Regions from separate parts of the Homo sapiens genome. Here region 2 is linked to region 1. A link means that fine-mapping ties the variant in region 1 to the expression of a gene that starts in the linked region. Tissue or cell type: whole blood. Region 1 holds a variant in brackets; the other region holds the start of a gene. All regions are shown on one strand. Distances are from middle to middle.

Region 1 (8,000 bases):
TCCTTTTTTTTTCCTTTTTTTTTTTTTTTTGAGACAGAGTCTCATTCTGTTTCCCAGGCTGGAGTGCAGTGGCGCAATCTTGGCTCACTGCGACATCCACCTCCCCGGTTCAAGTGATTCTCGTGCCTCAGCCTCCCAAGTAGTCGGGCCTGGGTAACTTTTGTATTTTTAGTAGAGACAGGGTTTTCGCTTGTTGGCCAGGCTGGTCTTGAGCTCCTGGCCTCAAGTGATCTGCTTGTCTTGCCCTCCCAAAGTGTTGGGATTACAGTGTTGGGAGCCACCGCGCCACGCCCCGATTCCTCTCTGACCTGTGTCAGCACTGGGGCTAACAGAAGCTGAGACACACAGGCAACCTCATGTTTCAAATGAGTTCATTGCCTAAGGGTAGCCTGTATAGACAGCTAGGCAGGATGACACCCTGAATTCTGCCCTCAGGCTGTGCTATAAATGACCTAGACTAGAGGAAAGGGCAGGCAGAGCCTTTATCTCAAACAGCGTCAAAAGAAAACAATGTAATAGCCTAGAACATTGAATCTATTTATTTACTTATTTTGAGACAGAGTCTCACTCTGTTGCCCAGGCTGGAGTGCAGTGGCTTGATCTCGGCTCACTGCAACGTCTGCCTCCCAGGTTCAAGCGATTCTCCTGCCTCAGCCTCCCGAGTAGCTGGGTTTACAGGTGCCAGCTACCACACCTGGCTAATTTTTGTATTTTTAGTAGAGACGGGGTTTTGCCGTGTTGGCCAAGCTGGTCATGAACTCCTGACCTCAGGTGATCCACCCATCTCGGAAATCTATTTATTAAAGTGCTCAGAGAGCAGAAAGAGCATGAGTGCAAAAAATTTTTTTAACTTTTTTTTTTCTCTTGCAAGCTATGACTGGGGAAAAAAGAAAGAAAAAAAAAATGTCAGCAATGCACAGTGGCTCACGCCTATAATCCATGCATGTTGGGAGGCCGAGGCGGGCAGATCACTTGACCCCAGGAGTTTGAAACCAGCCTGGGCAACATGGCGAGACCCCATCTCTACAAGAAATACAAAAATTAGCTGGGTGTGGTGGTGCGTCCCTGTAGTCCCAGCTCCTCAGGAAGCTGAGATGATCACCTGAGCCTGGGAGGTGGAGGCTACATTGAGCCATGATTGAGCCACTGCATTCCAGCCCAAGTGACAGAGCAACACCCTGTCTCAAAAAAAAAATTTTTTTTTTTAGGTGGAGTCTTGCTCTGTTGCCCAGGCTGGAGTGCAGTGGCGTGATCTTGGCTCACTGCAACCTCCACCTCCTGGGTTCAAGCAATTCTCCTGCCTCAGCCTTCCAAGTAGCTGGGATTACAGGCATGCACCACTACACGCGGCTAATTTTTGTATTTTTAGTAGAGATGGGGTTTCATCATGTTGGCCAGGCTGGTCTTGAACTCCTGACCTCAAGTGTTCCACATGCCTTGGCCTCCCAAAGTGCTGAGATTACAGGTGTGAGCCAGTTCACCTGTCAAAAGAAAGAAAATTTTTAAAAAGTCTCTCGGAGATGTCTTTCCTGTTTGGTGCCACCTGAATAGTGGCAAACCTTTCCATTATGTATCAGGTCACCACCGCATCTGCTAGAAGCCCCCCTCGTCCAGGGTGGGATGACCTGCTCCTATAAAGCCAAACTTACCGGGAGCTCAGTCTCTTGGATTTTTAAAATATGGGTGTCTCTTTTCCCCGGTTCCTGATGACATTGTGTCCCAAGGTGCCAAGGGGGCCTTTCCCTCAGTCCAGAGGGGTTTTCTGACCACCTGCTAAGTTCCAGACACGGGCCGACTGTGCATGACAGGCCCACGGTTCTAGGCCCAAATACTCAGTTGCCTTTGCCCCATATGCTGTTATTGTCCACATCACTTGCTGCCAAAACCCAGGACTGAGCTGTGGAGGGAACAGCTGGAATGCACCTTGGAGGACGTTGTTGACACGCCGCTCAGTCGCCGTTCGTGCCCTGGTGTTTGTCTTGCAGACAGAGGCTCCGTGGTGAAGGCGCGCGTGCTGACCTGTGTGGAGGGGATGAACCTGCCCTTGTTGGAACAAGCCATCCGGGAGCAGAGACTGTACAAGCAGGAGCGGGGCGGCAGCCAGTAGGAAACAGCAGCCTAGCAACACCCTCACCTGCTTCAGAGCCCGAACCCTCTGGAGCTGCAGGAGCCCGGGAGAGCACAGACGCCTCCCCAGCGACGGCCTTGTCTGGAGCTCGAAAGCCGAGGGGCGGGTGATGAATCCAGCCCCTTCCCCTACTTTGGGATTGGCTCAGCAATGAGAACCCAGAAAGCATGCCATAAATCCGACAGCCCCACCCCAGGAGACTGCAGGTGGCCGAGCTTGGGCGCCGGGGCCGTGCTTGGTGTGGGGCCATGGAGGGTTCCAGAAGGTCCTGGTGAATAAAGGCCCAGGGGGCGTGCTCTTGAAGTGTGCTCGTGGTGCAGCGCCGGCGGGGGCCAGGAGGGGGAGCTGCAACCCAGGCTGTGGGCTGCAGCCTCTCAGGGCTTCTGGTGAATTCTGGGCCTGGGGCCTCAGGGTAGGGCACCAGGGGCCCAGGGGCTGGGGTGGGGGGCCCAGGATGCAGGGGTCTGCCCCTGGCCAGGCTCTGCCTTCAGAGGAGGCTGAGCGTCGTCACACGGGCCGGGCTGAGGCCCTGGGCCCTGACCGTGCAGCCTAAGACAGGACTGTGGCTTTAAGACCCTCCTGACCCCTGACCTCTGCCCCCAGTGGCCCTGGCCCCTGGGCAGCCCTTCCTGGCCGCCATGTGTACCCAGAGCCTGGGACTGGCTGGGCTGGGCAGTGACCCAGGTGGGAAAGGGTGGTCTTGCCCTCTAAGGCCCGGCACAAGTGAGAGGCCTGGGGGTCCATGTTGGGCTGGGCTGGGCGAGGGGTGGTCTCTGACTTCCTGGGGGTTCTGGCTGGGATGGGCAGGGGGCTGGGTGGGAGAGTGTGGGCCCTGCCCTCCGAGGCCGGGCATGGGCGAGAAGCCTGGGGGTCCTGGCTGAACTGGGCTGGGTGAAGGGGGCCCCCTGACCCCCTTGGGGTCCGGGCTGGGCTGGGTGAGGGGCGGTTTCCGACCCCCAGCCAGGTTCCCAGGCAGGATGAGCTGGGGTTGGGGTGGCTAGGCCGTGGGCCTTGGGAGCTGGGCAGTCTGGGCTGGGCTGGGCTGGGCAGGGCGCCACATGGAAGCTGGAGGAGCAACGGGAGCGCTGGGCGTGGGGTGCAAATTGCCC[G/A]GTGCCTTCTGTTTCCCAGGCAGCTCTGTGGCCATGGATATGTTCCAGAAGGTAGAGAAGATCGGAGAGGGCACCTATGGGGTGGTGTACAAGGCCAAGAACAGGGAGACAGGGCAGCTGGTGGCCCTGAAGAAGATCAGACTGGATTTGTGAGTGCTGGGACGGCCCCTGAGTTACCCACCCTGGGCCATCACAACCTGGGCGCTCCCTGATCCGTTCCCTCTTTCCTGGAGTCCACGTTTAACTCCTCTGGGTGCTGCCCAGCAGCCCTTACCTGTCCTCTCCCCAGTTCACTGCCTTCTGACCAGCCTTTGCCGGGGCCCTGACTGTGGAGTTTGGTGGATGACGTGCCAAGGAGCACAGGTCTCCATTGCCGGGGCCCTGGTCATTCTGTGGGGTTAAGGAGAAGCCGATCCCCCTGGCTGGAAGTGCCCTTCTTGGCCCAAGTCTCTGCCCACGGCTGTGCCCTTGTTTCTTGCAGGGAGATGGAGGGGGTCCCAAGCACTGCCATCAGGGAGATCTCGCTGCTCAAGGAACTGAAGCACCCCAACATCGTCCGGTGAGTTGGGGATTGAGGTGGGGAAGCTGGGATGGCGAAGGTAGCATCCTGACTGCCATCTCCCTGTCAGACTGCTGGACGTGGTGCACAACGAGAGGAAGCTCTATCTGGTGTTTGAGTTCCTCAGCCAGGACCTGAAGAAGTACATGGACTCCACCCCAGGCTCAGAGCTCCCCCTGCACCTCATCAAGGTAGGGAAGGAAGGGCAGGGAAGGAGAGGTGACACCCCATCCCTGCCATCCCTGTCCACGCAGCACCTCCGCTCAGCTGGCTGCACCTCGCGCTCGTTTCTCCAGAGCTACCTCTTCCAGCTGCTGCAGGGGGTGAGTTTCTGCCACTCACATCGGGTCATCCACCGAGACCTGAAGCCCCAGAACCTGCTCATCAATGAGTTGGGTGCCATCAAGCTGGCTGACTTCGGCCTGGCTCGCGCCTTCGGGGTGCCCCTGCGCACCTACACCCATGAGGTATTGTGAGACAAAGAGGAGAGAGGGGCAGCAGGAGGAGTGTCACCCATGCACTCAGCCACCCTGAGTGATACTGTTTCTTTGCCCTGCAGGTGGTGACACTGTGGTATCGCGCCCCCGAGATTCTCTTGGGCAGCAAGTTCTATACCACAGCTGTGGATATCTGGAGCATTGGTTGCATCTTTGCAGAGATGGTAGAGAGAGGGGCACACATGGCCACAGGGTGCCACAGGCAGGGTCCTACTGGGGTTGGGTGGGGTCCACTGATGCTCCCATTCGAGGCGGATTAAAGAGTGTTTGGGGCTGGACATGGCTCACGCCCGTAATCCCAGCACTTTGGGAGGCTGAGATGGGAGGATGGCTTGAGCCCAGGAGTTTGAGACCAGCCTGGGCAACGTAACAAATCCCCAGCTCTTAAAAAACTACAAAAATTAGCTGGGTGTGGTGGTGCATGCTTGTAGTCCCAGCTACTTGGGAGGTTGAGGCAGGAGGATTGCTTGAGCCTGTGGTTGAGGCTGCAGTGAGCTGTGATCGCACGACTGCACTCTAGCCTGGGTGACAGAGCAAGACTCCGTCTCTATTTTTTAAAAAAAGGTGTTTGGTACTGGCTAAAGGACTGAGGAAGGTAGCTTTATTCCAAAAGAGGCCAGAATTCTTTGCACAGTCATGGAAAAGATATCTTGACAGGCCTCTCCCTGGGTCTGGCCACTTATCTGGTATTGGATTCTGTATAACAAAGTGGCGGACCCCACACCTTCTCTTCTTCCCCATTTCAGGTGACTCGAAAAGCCCTGTTTCCTGGTGACTCTGAGATTGACCAGCTCTTTCGTATCTTTCGTATGCTGGGGACACCCAGCGAAGACACATGGCCCGGGGTCACCCAGCTGCCTGACTATAAGGGCAGCTTCCCTAAGTGGACCAGGAAGGGACTGGAAGAGATTGTGCCCAATCTGGAGCCAGAGGGCAGGGACCTGCTCATGGTAGGTGCATGTGGGCTCCAGCTGCTGCTCCGACTACAGTTTCCCCTCATCAGCCAGCCTCTTACATAACCCTGGCACTTTCTGAGTCCAAGGCCAGGGTCTCTTTCCTGACCTTTGTACACAACTGGCTTGGGTATACTGATTGTTCAACCCGGAAGCCTCCCCCAGGATAAGTGCAGTATTTATCTTCCCTGTGAAAGTGGCGCTCATTGAGTTAGCTCTGTCTTTATGCTGTGCTACACGCCCTTTTTCCCTAGTTGTCTTGTGTGTTTGGTTATTCTACTTTGTGGACATTACTGCTCCATCTAAGCTGTATGCCTCCCCAGGCTGGGGCCATACCTTCTTTTCTTTTCTTTTTTTTGAGATGGAGTTTTGCTCTTGTTGCCCGGGCTGGAGTGCAATGGCGTGATCTCAGCTCACTGCAACTTCTGCCTCCTGGGTTCAAGTCATTCTCCTGCCTCAGCCTCCCGAGTAGCTGGGACTACAGGTGCCTGCCACCACGCCCAGCTAATTTTTGTATTTTTTTTTTTAGTAGAGACAGGGTTTCACCATGTTGGCCAGACTGGTCTTGAACTCCTCAGGTGATCTGCCCACCTCGGCTTCCCAAAGTGCTGGGATTACAGGCATGAGCCACTGTGCCCGGCTGGGGCCTCTCGTTCTACTGCCTGGCTGTTCCCCTGTGACTCCTACAGTGGTCAGTCTTCAGAACAGGCTGTTCCCTACTGCCTGGGCCCATGCCACAGTTCTCACTCACCCCTCCTGTTGGTGTCTTGAGCTGACCCAGGCCGGACTGCCCAGGAAGTCTCTGGCAGAACCGTCTGTTTTTTTTTTTTTTTTTGAGACAGGGTCTCAGTCTGTCACTCAGGCTGGCGTGCAGTGGTGTGACCATGACTTACTGCAGCCTTGACCTCCCAGGCACAAGCGATCCTCCCATCTCAGCCTCCTGAGTAGCTGGGACCACAGGTATACGCCACTATGCCTGGCTACCTTTTGTATTTTTTTTGTAGAGACAGCATTTCACCACGTTGCCCAGGCTGGTCTCGAACTCCTGGGCTCAATTGATCCTCCCACCTCAGCTTCCTGAGTAGCTGAGACTATAGGGGTGCACCACCATGCCCAGCTAATTTTATTTTTGTAGAAATGGGGTCTCACTATGTTGCTCAGACTGGTCTCGAACTCCTGGGCTCAAGCGATCCTCCTACCTTGGCCTCTCAAAGTGCTGGGGGGATCACAGGTGTGAGCCACTGCGCCCGTCCACTGTCCATTCTTGCCCACAAAGTCTTGGAGCCACATTTCTCTCCTTAATCTGGTGTTGAATGAGAGGAAGGTGGGTCAGTATTTTCATCTTCAGGCTGTGTGTCCAGCTCTCCAGAAGTCTCTGTGTGTTGTGTACCCGCCCAATGGCAGCAGGACGGCACAGACTCCAGCCAAGGCCCCGAGCCCTCCAGCTGGGCTACTCCACCACAGGGGGTCCTTCCACATCCTGTCTGGGTTTAGGGACTCTAGGGCAGAGGGCTGGACAGGTTTGGCCTCTTGGAGTGTCAGTCCCTGAGCCCCCACTCAGTGTTCCTCCCTGGACAGCTTCAGTCCCCTGCTTCCTGATACGTGGGGTTCTGTGCTCTTCCCAACTAGAAGCAGGCTGGGACCTGGGACCCTCCCCGAGAAGGGGGGTGACTCAGCTTCAGTGGCCTGAGGAGACCTGGGTGACTCGTTAGGACTGTCCAGATTCCAGGAGTGTCCGGAACTGGCTGGAGAGCTGGGAGGTCATGGCTTCATGCGGTTCTGGGTTTGAGGGCAGCCAATTTGGGGCCCAGGCCCTTGATCTGGGACCTGGGAGGGGAATTTCTCACCCCACCCTGGCTGCACCCAGACCACATCTTCTTCCTTCTTTCTTCCTAGCAACTCCTGCAGTATGACCCCAGCCAGCGGATCACAGCCAAGACTGCCCTGGCCCACCCGTACTTCTCATCCCCTGAGCCCTCCCCAGCTGCCCGCCAGTATGTGCTGCAGCGATTCCGCCATTGAGAATGTCAAGGCCACACTCAGATCCTTTCTCGAGCAGCTGCTGCCCCAGCTGCCTCCTACCCATTGCCAAGAGAGGATGCATCTGGGGAGAGCAAAGCACTAAGGAATTCAGCATCAGCCTGCAGAGGGCTGAGTCTGGGTTAGTCCTGCCCGCAGGTTAGCGAGATCCTGTGTTGTTTTTTGGGTTGGACGGTGCCGTTTCAAAATAGAGGCACAGATGCTCCATGCACGAGGGGTCCCCGGGCACTGGAACAAGTGCCAAGTTGAAGGCAGGGGGCCTGCCAGAGCTGGGTGTGGGTATTCAGGCCCTCACCTGCCCTGCCTGCAGGGCCAGACCCTGAGGAAAGGGCGCCCCCTGCTGGTCTTTTTGGATTTAAAATGTTTGGGGGAAGAGTTGAGTTCCAGTTCAGTCCCAAGTTAAACAGGAGGGAGTGAGGGAGAGGAGAGAGGGCGTTCCCCGGATCCCAGGAGAGCTGGGCTATGACTGCAATAAGGAGTTGTTCCTTCACCTGAGATGTGCTTCTTTTGGTTCATTTCTGGCTTGACAACAATAAATAAACGTGGTATGTTCCTGAGTTTTCTGATTGTTCTGCTCACAGGGGACACCTGGGCTTCCTGACAAGGGGAACATTGACACAGGGCTGGAGACAGCTCTGGCCCAAACTGAGACAGTGGGGAAATGGGCAAGGAGTAGGTGGGGAGACAGGGGCTAGTCCATGATTTTTTTTTTTT
Region 2 (8,000 bases), 23 kb before region 1:
ATGTGTTTAGAAGCTGCTCATTAACATCAGTTAAAAATGTTTTCTCAGCCAGGCGCAGTGGCTTATGCCTGTAATCCCAGCATTTTGGGAGGAAGGGGCGGGTGGATCACAAGGCCAGGAGTTCGAGACCAGCCTGGCCAACATGGTGAAACCCCATTTCTACTAAAAATACAAAAGTTAGCTGGGTGAGGTGGCAGATGCCTCTTCACCTGCTGATAATGGAAATAAATGGAAATGCAGAGAGAGAGAGAGAGAGAGAAAGAAAGAGAGAGAAAGAAAAAGAAAGAGGAAGAGAAAGAGAAAGAAAAAGAAAGGAAAAGAAAGAAAAGAAAAGAAAGAAAGAAAGAAAAGAAAAGAAAGAAAGGTGATGTATTTCACAATTAATAGCATGTCACGGTTAACTGGCAGCATTCTTTCTTTCTTAGTGGTACACAAAACACTGGTGTGAGTTATAATCGATGAGATTATATAACCGAGGCTTTAACTCGATAGCATGCGATAATTTCCAGGACTCATTTACAAACCCCTTCTCTTACTTAAAAACTGATCTCCTTGTCATATCCTAAGGACATTGGAAGTGTGTCAAAGGGTGTGTTAAAGTTTGTACTTTAATACTTCACATGAAAAATGATACACAAAACAACTTCCCGGTGTCCATGAATCTTTAACCCGCATAAAAGACTTTGTTCTATTTCATTGTGACCTCACTCGAGTCTGGTTCACATTATCAACAGGTCACAGGTTATGAAATCATCTCTATCAGCTTTGAAATGCACTGCACCACCCATTCAAACACACACACACACACTCAACCCACTTTTTTCCTGACGTTTCAAGAAGGAATAAAATCTTACTAATTTTTTCAAATTTACAAACACAACACAGGTATCAGTAACATAATCTTCTAGGAGGAGTTACTCTATCTCAATATCCCCACAGCCATGAGTTACAAACTTCAAAAACAAAACAGACCATTTGGAAGTATGCTGATTTGAACTACCAAAAATAAATAAACAAAATTTTTTCGTTTAAAACTGAGTGGAGCTCTGAGGAAAGTCCAAAGTGCCAGAGTAAACCATTTCATCTTCACAAAAATAACCCAAGTCAAGCTGAAAATCGATACCAAAGGCACTAGAGGCAGTGACCATTATTACCATAAAGGCAGAACGTGCAACATGTTCTATTTAGCTTGGTTCTAGTCTATACACCACTCATACGATTTAGTCTTTACCGATGAAAATACTGGAGTTCCTTTAAAATGGAGAAACCTAAAAGAGAAAATGCCCAGGAATAAATGAGAAAAAAATGCTATAGGCCAAAATAATCTTGTACTAGGATCATGTAATAGTGTTTGTTTAGGTTAAGGCAAAAAAGTCTTTTTTTTTTTTTTTTTTTTTTTTGAGACAGAGTCTCTCTTTGTTGCCCAGTCTGGAGTGCAGTGGCGTGATCTCGGCTCAGTGCAGCCTTTGCCTCCCAGGTTCAAGGGATTCTCCTGCCTCAGCCTCCTGAATAGCTGGGACCCCAGAAGCGCACCACCAGGCCCGGCTAATTTTTGTATTTTTAGTAGAGAGAGTTTCACCATTTTGGCCAGGCTGGTCTCGAGCTCCTGGCCTCAAGTGATCCACCTGCCTTGGCTTCCCAAAGTGCTGAGATTACAGGCATGAGCCACTGTGCCCGGCCCGAAGTCCTTATTTTTATTTATTTTTACCGTTCCTTGTGGAGCAGGGTGGATCACGAGGTGAGGAGTTTGAGACCAGCCTGGCAACATGGCGAAACCCCATCTCTACTAAAAATACAAAAATTAGCCGGGTGTGGTGGCGGGCGCCTGTAATCCCAGCTACTCAGGAGGCTGAAGCAGGAGAATCGCTTGAATCCGGGAGGTGGAGGCTGGAGTGAGCCGAGATCGTGCCACTGCACTGCAGCCTGGGCGACAGAGCGAGACTCCGTCTCAAAAAACAAAAACAAAAACAAAAAACACAACAAAACACATGGTCTGAAAAAAGGATATACTCTCTTCCACACTAGAACCAAGGCAGGTTTTTATGACGTCTCTCTCATATGCACAAGACAACCATTCAAGCACTGTCATGGATTCAGAACTACTGGGTTCTTAGACTTTCTATTCATTCAGAGGCGTCACAGATCATTCTTCATCCAGGTCCACACTACCATATAATATAATCTGCTATTGCTCCAAAATATTTAAATGGTCGTGCAACTAAAAAAAAAAATGCTCCCAGATTCAGAATTTTAGCAGTCCTCCTTACAAAGAGCAAAATGATTCTGCATTTAAATCAGTCAAATTTGAGTTGCTTGGGCAGAACAATGCTTTTACAACATCCTTGAAACTGTACTCTTGAGAACAAAAACTCCTGCATTTCCATTTATTATCAGCATTCTACAAACACGTCATCCCACGAAAAGGCTTGGATACAAAAGTGATCACATTATTTTTCACACATATAACTTTATTTATTTATTTATTTATTTATTTTTTGAGATGGAGTCTCGCACTCTTGCCCAGGCTGGAGTGCAGTGGCGCGATCTCGGCTCACTGCAAGCTCCGCCTCCCTAGTTCACGCTATTCTCCTGCCTCAGCCTCCCGAGTAGCTGGAACTACAGGCGCCCGCCACCACGCCCGGCTAATTTTTGTATTTTCAGTAGAGATGGGGTTTCACCGTGTTAGCCAGAATGGTCTCGATCTCCTGACTTGGTGATCCGCCCGCCTCGGCCTCCCAAAGTGCTGGGATTACAGGCGTGAGCCACCGCGCCCGGCCACACATATAACTTTATAAAGTTGCATGAAAATATGCCAGTTTGCATCTTCAAACACCAAGCACGGTGATGAAAGGCCACCATAGACCGCAGCTGTAAAGTTTAGGCTTAACAACACTTGCTCTGTTCTAAGGCATACCTACTTTTTAAACCACATAATTTCATCAGGGTCAGCGATGCCAAACTCCCTCATCTTCTTCACCATGATGGCACTTTTCCTGACAGCCACCTCATAACGCTGGCTGCGAGTGAGGAAGTTCAAGTCCTCATGCTGGAAGTCTGGGTCGTTCAGGATCATGTTCTCTGAAAGGGGGTTAAAGGGCATTAAAAGGCAGACAGACACTCGGGCCTCCGTTCCACCCTCCCTGAATCACAATAGGCTTCAGAGTCGCGGACACACCTGGGGAATGGCGATATCCCCCCACCAGGGACACAGGCTGTTCCTCGAAGTGGGGGTCCCGGCTCCCCTAACGCTGGGCCAGAGGGCCTAGGCCCCACAGCGCCCCTGACTCCGCATCGAGGGAGTCTCCAGCTTTTCTCGGGAAAGGAGGGAGGTCTCGCCCGCCGCCCTCACCGATCTCTCGGCGGCGCCGGGTTTTCTCGGGGCTGCCGTCCAGGATGTGTGTAAGCAGCTCCGGGTTGAAGCTGGCGGAATCCCGCTCCCTGCGCAGGTCCGGGTTCATGGCGACGACCAGCTGGCAGCGAAGTAAGCACCGACCGAGGTGGCAGTGACAATCTAAATCCGCAGCTCCAGCGCCGGCCGGACCCTAGGAGGCAGCCTCAGGACGGCGCAAGTCCCCGCCTCCGCTCGCCCGGCCCGCCCCGGCCCGCCCCTTCTTTCTCCGTGGCCCTTTGGCGCGTGAGTGACAGCGGCCCAGACAGAGGGGGCGATGTCCGCGTCGTGGCTGGGGCCGGTCGCGGGGCAGACTAATCCCCTGCTCCTGGCCAGGGGAGGCTCCCGAGCGGATCCTCGGGAAAGGGGCTCCGAAGGTCAAGAAACTGCCCTGCTGGGCGTCCGGGGAGTGGGAAAATAAAGCACTTTTTGTATCCCGCCCCTCCCCCGTCACGTGACCACGCGAGGCGGAAAGAAGAAATCCGAGGACCGGCGACGCCTAGAACAGGTTGGCTGGGGCCTTGGGAAGGGGGCGGGACAACGAGGCTGAGGAGGGATTGCGCCTGCACTTGCCCCCCTCTTACCCCGCGGCCTCTGTCACGCTTCCGGGTCCGTGCCCCTAGGCCTCTCCGAAATGAGAGTGGTCGGGAGACTCTGGAGTCTGGGGCGGGAGATGGGGCTTTGCGGAATTGCTAGGGAGGGTCACTTGGGCTTTTGCCAAATCCACCCGGATTGGAGAAGAATGGGACGGGAACCAGTCTCTTTGGGGAGAGGCTCCAGTTACCTTTTGTTAAGATAATGGCGTCTTTACTGGCAGAGGCGTGGGTTCCGGGGCCCTGGGTGTGGGATTGTGAGCGCTGTTCAAGGGGTGGACGGGGACTTAGAATGAGACCAAGCGGGCGGTGCTGCTCTAAGCCTTCTGTCTGGGAAACCAGACATTTTCCCCCGCAACCTGGCAGTTACTAGAGGTCTTGGAATCCAGACTTCTTTGCTTTCGCCATCACCGTCATCAAAGTGGGAAATGCACACTTACTGTTAAAACCTAGTGTAGGGCCGGGCGCGGTGGCTCACGCCTGGAATCCCAGCACTTTGGGAGGACGAGGCGGGCGTATCACTTGAGCCCAGGAGTTCAAGACCAGCCTGGGCAACATGGCAAAACCCCATCCCTACAAAAAATACCAAAAAATTAGCTGGGTGTAGTGGCATGCGCCTGTAGTCCCAGCTACTCTGAAGGCTGAGATGGGATGGTGGCTTGAGCCCCGGAGGTGGAGGTTGCGGTGAGCCAAGATTGTGACATTGCACTCCATCCTGGGCAACATAGTGAGACCCTGTCTCTACAGAAAAAAAACAAAAAACAAAAACAGTTCTGCCCAGTGGGATTGTAGACAAGGGAGATTCAGGGATTTGTTGAATCATCTCTAGTCATTTTTTTTTTTTTTCTTGAGACGGAGTCTCGCTCTGTCGCCCAGGCTGCAGTGTGGTGGTATGATCTCAGCTCATTGCAACCTCCACCCCCTGGGTTCAAGCGATTCTCCTATCTCAGCCTCCCGAGTAGCTGGGATTATAGGGGCTCGCCACCACACCCAGCTAATTGTATTTTTAGTAGAGACAGGATTTTGCCATGTTGGCCAGGCTGGTCTCGAATTCCTGACCTGTTGATCCACCTGCCTCGGCCTCCCAAAGCGCCGGGATTACAGGCGTGAGCCGCTGCGCCTAGCCTGTCTGTAGTCTGTGTAATACTATGACTTTGGTTTTCTCAGAAGTAAAACTACGAGAGATGCATAACATTCATAATTTGAATAATAGAACTATAATACACACTCTTAACCCCTAGGACCTCAGGATCCTCATTTGTCTTATTAAGCTGCTGATCTCAGGCCCCTTCAACAGCAGAGAGGGTGTCTAGTTTATTCTCTGTACCTGGCACAGTGCCTGCCCCGCTAAAGGTGCTCAGGAAATCTTTGTGGAGTGAACAAATGGCTGCTTGACAGCTGACCTTCTAGTTCTAATATTCTAGGAAACCAATTGCTCTTAATGTAACAATGATAAGGGGTGTACTTAGCATTGAATAGAAAAGACTTAGATGAAGAGCTAAATTTGCTGAGTTTTTATTTTGAAATAATTTCAAATTTACACGAGAATTACAAGAATAGAACAAAGAACTTTTCTTCTGTGACTTTAACGCTTTTTTTTTTTCTTTTGAGATGATGTCTTCCTCTGTCACCCAGGCTGGAGTGCAGTTGCATGATTTCAGCTCACTGCAACCTCCGCCTCCTGGGTTCAAATGATTCTCATGCCTCAGCCTCCAGAGTAGCTGGGACTACAGGAATGTACTACCACACTTGGCTAATTTTTGTGTCTTTATTAGAGGCAGGGTTTCACTATGTTGACCAGGCTGGTCTCCAACTCCTGGCCTCATGTGATCCGCTCGCCTCAGCCTTCCAAAGTGCTGAGATTACAGGCGTGAGCCACTGCGCCTGGCTGGCTGACATTAACACTTTTGAAGTGTATAAGCCCATTGTTTTGTAGTGTTGGGTCTCAGAAAACAATACCCCAAAATGAAGGCCTCAGAAGCAACCCACAAAGCAAGTTGTTTTTTTTTTTTTTTTTACCTTCTGTCCTCCTCTCCCTCAGGTGCATTCTCCCCCGAGCCTAGCCAGAGAAGTTAGAATCCTCTTCCCCAAGGCAGGTCATAGAAAACAGAGTCATTTACCCCCAAAGCCAGCCATAAAACCCTAAATATAAGCTGGGTGCGGTGGCTCACGCCTATAATCCTGGCACTTTGGGAGGCCAAGGCAGGTGGATAGCGAGGTCAGGAGATCGAGACCATCCTGGCTAACACGGTGAAACCCCGTCTCTACTAAAAATACAAAAAAAGCCGAGCGAGGTGCCATGTGCCTGTAGTCCCGGCTACTCGGGAGTCTGAGGCAGGAGAATCGCTTGAACCGGGGAGGCAGAGGTTGCAGTGAGCCGAGATTGCACCACTGCATTCCAGCCTGGGCGACAGAGTGAGACTCTGTCTCAAAAAACAAACAAAAAAAACCCTAAATATATTACTCTTAACTTTCCCTCCTTCTTTTGGTGTAAAAACTGGCCAAAAAGAAATTATCTGACCTAGCTTGTTTGACTGTAGGCCATAAGACTCCATTCCAGAGAGGGTCCTCCCCCACACCCAGAAGGAAGGAATGCCTGTTCCAAGAGGCCAAGAAGAATCTAGACAGACAGGCCTTGCTGGGCCTCCCCACTCAGTCTATCAGCATTAGATCATACCTTTTATGTTCAATCATTTGCATAAAAATGTACAATTTCCCCTGTATCTTTGGGTCTTCCTTCTGAAGGCTCCCATATGTACATGTTACATAAATTTGTACACATTTTTGACTATTACTCTGCCTTTTGTAAGTTGATTTTTTGCAGCGAAACTTCAGAGGGCCCCTTGGCACCTACAGTAGAATGTCCCTTAATTCAGATTTGTCTGATATTTCTTCATGATTAGATTCAGATGATGCATTTTTGGCAGGAATACCACACAAGTGATTAATAGGAGAAAAGGCATACACATGTATTTGATCATAGTTTTGCTTTGTTTTGTTTTGTTTGAGACAAGGCCTTGCTCTGTCACCCAGACTAGAATGCAGTGGCGCAACCATAGTTCACTGCAGCCTCAAACTCTTAGGCTCAAGCATTGATCATAGTTTTATTTATTTATTTATTTATTATTTTTTCAGGCAGAGTCTCACTCTGTCGCCCAGGCTGGAGTGCAGTGGCATGATCTCGGCTCACTGCAGCCTCCGCCTCCCGGGTTCAAGCAATTCTGCTGCCTTAGCCTTCCCTGTAGCTGGGATTACAGGCACCCGCCATCATGCCTGGCTAATTTTTGTATTTTTAGTAGAGACGGGGTGTCACCACATTGGCCAGGCTAGTCTCGAACTCCTGACCTCAAGTGATCTGCCCGCCTTGGCTCAAAAAAAAAAAAAAGAAAGAAAAAAGGAAGAGGCCCGGTGAGGTGTCTCACGCCTGTAGTCCCAACACTCTGGGAGGCCGAGGTGGGTGGATCACCTGAGGTCAGAAGTTCATGACCAGCCTGGCCAACATGGTGAAACCCCGTCTCTACTAAAAATACAAAAATTAGCCGGGCATGGTGGCACACGCCTGTATTCCCAGCTACTCAGGAGGCTGAGGCAGGAAAATCGCTTGAACCCGGGAGGCAGTGGTTACAGTGAGCCGAGATCCCGCCACTGCACTCCAGCCTGGCAGACAGAGCGAGACTCCATCTCAAAAAAGAAAGAAAGAAAGAAAGAAAAATGTATAATCATTATACCAGCAAATTCCTCCCTCGGTGAGAATTGCATAGCAACCCCAGCATCCTCCCCACCTCTTTTTCCCCAGATCCACCAGAAAAACAGGAACATCTAGTGGGGACACTCCTTTAGTCCCCTCATGTTAGTGAGCACACACTCGTGTACACTAGCCCTTCATAATTGTTATCTCCCCCTGTTTTAGACAACCAGTGTTTTCATAGCCTATGCCACCTCTATAACCACCTGATGGGTTCCCACAGCACAAACGAAATCATTTCATGGAGAGCATGGCATTACAGTCAAGAAAGACT

What was found. PIP is the estimated chance that this variant, and not a neighbour inherited with it, causes the effect.
Region 2: TEN1 starts here. The variant in region 1 is fine-mapped to the expression of TEN1 in whole blood (TOPMed, PIP above 0.99). The same link has a PIP of 0.9 or more in blood mononuclear cells and lung.

What each region holds. Positions count from the first base shown.
Region 1 is chr17:75,998,156-76,006,155 of GRCh38, forward strand. It overlaps TEN1 (TEN1 subunit of CST complex), which reads left to right. Exons shown (of 4, transcript NM_001113324.3): 4 at 1,986-2,431. The coding sequence ends at 2,107. It overlaps CDK3 (cyclin dependent kinase 3), which reads left to right and starts at 2,700. Exons shown (of 8, transcript NM_001258.4): 1 at 2,700-2,812; 2 at 3,257-3,386; 3 at 3,719-3,796; 4 at 3,867-3,987; 5 at 4,093-4,263; 6 at 4,356-4,457; 7 at 5,040-5,243; 8 at 7,143-7,843. The coding sequence starts at 3,271. The coding sequence ends at 7,268. It overlaps TEN1-CDK3 (TEN1-CDK3 readthrough (NMD candidate)), which reads left to right. Exons shown (of 10, transcript NR_037709.1): 4 at 1,986-3,386; 5 at 3,719-3,796; 6 at 3,867-3,987; 7 at 4,093-4,263; 8 at 4,356-4,457; 9 at 5,040-5,243; 10 at 7,143-7,844. LOC124904061 (a long non-coding RNA gene) reads right to left here and starts at 2,405. Exons shown (of 2, transcript XR_007065911.1): 1 at 1,650-2,405; 2 at 517-1,481. RefSeq lists an enhancer at 2,327-2,376 and silencers at 2,507-2,586, 4,939-5,139, 6,753-7,047. The variant G/A (reference allele first, on the strand shown) is at 3,238.
Region 2 is chr17:75,975,616-75,983,615 of GRCh38, forward strand. It overlaps TEN1 (TEN1 subunit of CST complex), which reads left to right and starts at 3,625. Exons shown (of 4, transcript NM_001113324.3): 1 at 3,625-3,896. It overlaps ACOX1 (acyl-CoA oxidase 1), which reads right to left and starts at 3,551. Exons shown (of 14, transcript NM_004035.7): 1 at 3,350-3,551; 2 at 2,919-3,078. The coding sequence starts at 3,458. TEN1-CDK3 (TEN1-CDK3 readthrough (NMD candidate)) reads left to right here and starts at 3,602. Exons shown (of 10, transcript NR_037709.1): 1 at 3,602-3,896. RefSeq lists enhancers at 2,725-3,308, 3,214-3,443, 3,309-3,892, 4,014-4,113, 7,777-8,000 and a silencer at 3,524-3,593.